Linked DNA regions of Homo sapiens: region 1 is linked to region 2. A link means that fine-mapping ties the variant in region 2 to the plasma level of a protein whose gene starts in the linked region. Region 2 holds a variant in brackets. A gene starts in the other region. All regions are shown on their forward strands.

What was found. PIP is the posterior inclusion probability: the model's chance that the variant is causal. The UK Biobank Pharma Proteomics Project read protein levels with antibody pairs (Olink). The fine-mapping took linkage between variants from a reference panel, not from the people measured, so its PIPs are less certain.
Region 1: EPHB4 starts here. The variant in region 2 is fine-mapped to the plasma level of the EPHB4 protein (UK Biobank, PIP above 0.99).

What each region holds. Positions count from the first base shown.
Region 1 is chr7:100,826,151-100,828,650 of GRCh38, forward strand. It overlaps EPHB4 (EPH receptor B4), which reads right to left and starts at 1,373. Exons shown (of 17, transcript NM_004444.5): 1 at 829-1,373. The coding sequence starts at 880. It also overlaps a transcript of SLC12A9 not described here. RefSeq lists an enhancer at 1,377-2,172.
Region 2 is chr13:105,996,462-105,999,485 of GRCh38, forward strand. No RefSeq gene overlaps it. Among named protein-coding and RNA genes, the nearest start is that of LINC00343, 290 kb to the left of the region's middle. The variant C/T (reference allele first, on the strand shown) is at 1,283.

The sequences.
Region 1 (2,500 bases), not on the chromosome of region 2:
GCTCTTGGCTCCCCCTTTAGGGGACCAGGAGGGACAGCGATCCATGGCCAAAGAAATGCTTGGAGAGACCAGGAGGTGGGAGATAGACTGGGTTAGTTAGGGCGATGTGGGGGCTGTGTAGGTCAGTTTCTACCTGGGGGCTGTGTAGGTCAGTTTCTACCCGCTCCTAGGTCTCAAGGGAAGCCCGGGACTCACCTGGGGCCGGGGTCTAGACCGCATTTAAAGGGATGGGGTGCAGCCTGTAGAAACCAAGGAGCCACCCTATACCAGGGGCAGGAGCAGTGGGCGGGAGAGCGGTTTGGGGGTTTGCTGTGTGAATGCAAAGGAGGCCATCCTGTTGCAGGAGTGTGGAACTGGAGGATCAAGGTGTGATCGCTAAGGAATTGGCGCTGGGGGTCGTTTTAGGGCCTAGCACGAAAAGTTGTGCCTTGTCTGCTGTTGCTTCTCCAGAAACCTTCCCTCATGTACGGCGGGAGGTGGGACTGGGACAGAAACTTTGCAGATAGTTTTGAATAGTGGGGTAGGGAGGAAAGGAAAGGCAGCCAGGGGCGTATGTAATCAGCAGTGAGAGTTCGGGGAGCCCGGGCAGGGGAATGTCCCGGGTCGTAGCCAGACTCCATCTCTTTCCCAAACAAAAGAAAACTCCACTACCCGTCGGGCGCCTCTTCCCCGCCCCCCTCCCGTTCCAGCACTATCGGTCCGAAGTGTTTGGGACTGCAGTGCCCGGGTAGGGGTAGTCAGAGGCCGGCCCCTCCACTCCGAGGCCCAGATGTTGGGGGGGAGGTCCCAGGAGTGACGGGGTGCGCCCCCCCCCGCAAGGAAACTCACCTTCCAAAGCTGCGGCCAACGAAGCCCAGCAGAGCAGCACCCGGAGCTCCATGGCGCCGCCTCACTCGGGTAGGATCCGAACTGAGTTTGGGGGGCCCTCGCCCCCCCAGGTCTGACTCTCCCTGGGCGGGTGGACGCCGATACTCCGCGCGGGACTCCTCGTCGGGGCCCTCAGCGCGGGCCCATGCGAGCGTGCGGGGCACCGGGCGGCGGCGCCAAGTGTGGCCCCGCGTCTGTGCCGCGCGCGCGGGCGGCGGGCCCGGAGCGTGCTGGCAGTGGCCGCGCCGGGCGGGCGCGCAGCAAGACGTGGCTGGAGTTGGGGTCCCTCCGGGGCCTCGGGGTCCCGCCCCGGGTGGCGGGGGCTGAGCCGGCCGCTCGCGGTCTCCCCCCCTCCCTGGAGTGGCTCTGCTCGCGCCGCCGGGCCGAGTGCTCTCCTCGCGGGCGGGGATGGTGGGAGCCCGAGCGGGGACGGAGCGGGAGGGAGGGAGACTGCGGCGCGGAGCCGGGCGGGCCGGGCCGGGCAGGGGCTGAGCTGCGCTGGAACTGGGCCGGGCGGCGCCGGGCCCGGGAGGGAGGGGCGCGCGGGGGGCGGGGGCAGCTCTCCCAACGCGGGGGCTCCGCGAGTGAGCCCCGGGCGCGCTGATTGGAGCTCACGCTACTGAATAATTCATGAGGGAAGCGGAGAGGGGCACCGAGTGGAGCAGGTCGGGAAGTTGAGAGAAAGTTTGGAGAAGGGGGAGGGGCGGCGGGTGAGGAACCCCGGGACCGCCCAGATGTGCGCCGTGGCGGTGCGCGCTGTCCAGGACCGAGCATGTCGGGGCTGGGGCCCAGGGACCCCCGGGACAGGCCCGAACCCGGCTGGCACCAGGGAGCAGAGAAAACACACACCCAGCAGCAACACGGAGGGCCGCCCAGGCGTGCACGTAAATGTTCACCGCGCACACAAAGCCCGCTCTGACCTTGCTGCGGACTCTAGATGCCGCTCTTGGATGCGCCCACCACCCTCTAGTGGGCGCAGGGACTGCGTTTTGGGGGAAAAGGAAGGAAAAGGGAGTAGAAGCTTTGGAGAATTGACGGCCGCCCAGGGGGCCTCAAGGAGCAATCCCAGTTTGGATAGCCTTGCAGCGAACGTTCACACAGTCACCCCATAAACATTCAGTGTTGGGGACCTACTGTGCGCGCAACCAAGCCCTGAAAAATGTCCAGAGGAGGCGCGCACTAAGCTGCGCTAGGGAGTAGAGAAAAATCGAGGAAACAACGGTAAAGAAAAGGTGGGTGTGGCGGGCGCGGTGGCTCACGCCTGTAGTCCCAGCATTTTGGGAGGCAGAGGCAGGCGGATCATTTGAGGTCAGGAGTTCAAGACCAGCCTGGCCAACATGATGAAACCCCGTCTCTACTAAAAATACAAAAATTAGCTGGGCATGGTGGCGCGCGCCTGTAATCCTAGCTACTCGGGAGGCTGAGGCAGGAGAATTGCTTGAACCGGGACCTAGGAGGCGGAGGTTGCAGTGAGCTGGGAGCTGAGATCGCGCCACTGCACTCCAGCCTGGGCTACAGAGTGAGACGAAATCTCAAAAAAAAAAAAAAAAAAAAAAAAGGTGGGTGTGTCCGAGAGGGTGAGGGGTCCGGCTAGATCTCCAAATCGCCCTTCTCACTCTCACTCTCGTGTTTT
Region 2 (3,024 bases):
AAGACCAGGACTCAGTACTGGCTCTCTGATTTAATTAGCCATGTGATCCGAAGCAAGCTCCTCGCCCAGCTGGCATCCCCATTTCTAAGAATGAAGTTACTAATCTTTGCCCTGCCCGCCCCACATCTCAGGGTGTGCAGTGAGGACGAACAAGGATAAAGTGGGTGAAAGTACTTTGCAAACGGTAAAGTAATGCACACATGCCACTGTGATTTCTGCCGTGTTAATCTCCTACTCAGGCCTTGGAACAGCTGTGTCATGTTCTCTTCGCAGAAAGGATGCATAGTTGGGTAGCCAGGCTGATATCATTCCACCTTTCACGAGGTTACCCTCCCGCTGACCGCTGCTCCTTTCCCATGCATGCTGATGATTTATCTTATAAAAGCAAAACAATGCGTCCTGCCCACTCCCCTGCCCCTACTGCACTTGTTGCTCTGTGCTTGCCTGTTGTGTTTTTCTACAGCACACAAGGAATGGAAACCAAATGCAAGCATCACCACCAATGAACACATGCTTACATCTCTTGCTAGCGATCTTTTTCCTCTCTCTCTCTGCCAGAACTCAAAGGGCACAGTTTTTCTTCTCCGAATTTTTCTAAGCCCTATGCAACATGTAGCTATGTGGTGCAGATAGTCTGAACATAGGAGCAAGCTGTGACTGTTCAAGTGATTGAGCTTTTTCAAAATTATTAGTGATATCCCCAGGACCTCGCTAAAGCACACTGAAAAATCGGCTTACCCTAAAGCTACTTTGTTTAGAAACTGTCTTTGACTTAATCTAAACCAGGATACAAGCCTCCCTTCTGCCAGTTGAGAGAAGTGGCTAGAGGGTAACCAGCCAACTGTCCCACTGTTAACACTGAAGGTCTCACGTCCCCGGAAACTCCTGAGTACCGAGCGAACAGGACAGTTAGACACCCCAGGAGTGGAGCCATACCCTTCCTGCATCTGCACCAACCTGCTGCCCCGTATTTTTCACGGGCTCCAACCACAGTGAATAATTTTCACCTTTCTGTTACTTGCACAAAGCCTTTTTAGAAAAGCATTAAAAAAAAAAAAAGAAAAAAACCCAATATTTTAGCTCTTTCACAAAACACTCTGTCCCCCAGTAAGCTGTGACTGAACTTGAACAGGTCACACCTCCAGAAGACAGGCCTCAGTGCTGCTGACTGCCGCCTCCGAAGCCAGTCTGGGTTCTCGCTGCATATTTAGTATTCAAACCTCTTGATAAATGATCGGCTGTTTTTCATGTTTGGAGCTCTCCCTGAACAATAAAGCAAAAA[C/T]GTTTGTCATCCATAAAGTACAGCTGCAAGAAGTGTGTGGGAGTGATAATTGGATGACACTCCAGGAAGGAGGGGGAAATGAAAACAGCTGTTCCGAGAGGACAACGCGGTGTTGTGCGGGAGATGAGCCCGCGGCCCAGGAGGACTGAGCCCCCTGTGCTCACTGGCCCCGGCCCACGCAGGCTGCATGCCCCATTTCTGCTGCCGCAGCCACTCTTGCTCCACGCCTAGTGCCAGTGAGGGGCAGGCTCCAGCTGGATCGGGGTCTCACGGCCCCAGGCCTCACCCTGCCCTGGCCACAGCAATGCTTTCTGCTCACTTTGGCAGCTGGAGGTAGCCTGAGGGGGAACTTCATTTCTGTTTCCATGAGGGCCACCAAGCTAGGAAAGGCCAATCGCCTTTAACCCCACAAAAAGGCCCCTTTGACAAGTTCCGCTTTGATTCACGGAGGGTTTGGTGTGCACTGCGACGGGCAGCTGTCAAGACAGGGCCTCGGGCAGAAAGACGGAGGGGAACACAGATCACCATGAAGGCGACACCACACATGTTTGATCCTCTTAGCCCTGTCCTTCCCACTCTCAGATTTCTCTCGCACAGTGGTTGAACTTAGAGGATTCCGCAGACAAAGACGCATTTATGCACACTAAGCCCTGCAGGCTCCGCTCCTCTGCTGAACCACTTCTCAAACCCAGTCCCAAAGGCTGAAAAACTATCCCAGAAGTTTTAAGCTTTTCATGTAACATCCTAGACCAGCAACTTCAAGTTCAAAACTTAAAGACAGAGTCCCTACATTTGCACATCTCATGTGCAAGGTATGTGTGTGTGTGTGGTGTTAGTACATATATGTATGTGTTTATGTGTATGTATGTGTGTATCTATATATATGTATGTGTGGTGTGCGTACGTGTGTGTATGTATGTGTGAATATGTGTGTGTGTAGAGTATGTGTGTGTGTTGTGCATACATATGTTTATGTGTATGTACATGTGTGTATGTATGTGTGAATATGTGTGTGTAGAGTATGTGTGTGGTGTGCATACATATGTGTGTATGTGTATGTACATGTGTGTGTATGTGTGAATGTGTGTGTAGAGTATTGTGTGTGGTGTGCATACATATGTGTGTATGTGTATGTACATGTGTGTGTATGTATGTGTGAATGTGTGTGTGTAGAGTACGTGTGTGTGGTGTGCATACATATGTGTGTATTTGTATGTACGTGTGTGTGTGTAATATGGGTTATTATTTTTTTAAAAACCTGTGGAGGATGGTGAAGACTAGTCTTTCTTGATGAAAGGCTGTATCACCTTAAGTCTGGAATTATATATAAGGCAACATCTGGAAATAACATTAATATGTTGTTTAGAGGGCAATTTAGAAAAGTGCCACATGGATCAGAGAAATGGAGTCATCATATAAAAGGGAGAAAAATAAAAGGGGGAGATTTGATTTGAGCTGCTTCTTCTAATGTATCCTTCCCAAAGAACAGGAAGGTGAGGAATGATATTTGCACCTCACCAAGTCTCATTGAGTGAAGGGCTTTAACCATGGAGACTCAGATCTTAGGGGTTCTTAGGTCATTAGGCCCTACGTAGAAAACTGCTGCAACAGTTTAGAAGACAGCACCTGTGTGGTCTAGAGAAGGCTCTATGTGGAGTATGTGGCCAGCTGCAGGAACACAAAGACAGATCAAAACTGCACAGTCTTCCAACTGCCTGAAGGTCTGTTTTTGTCCCTAGACC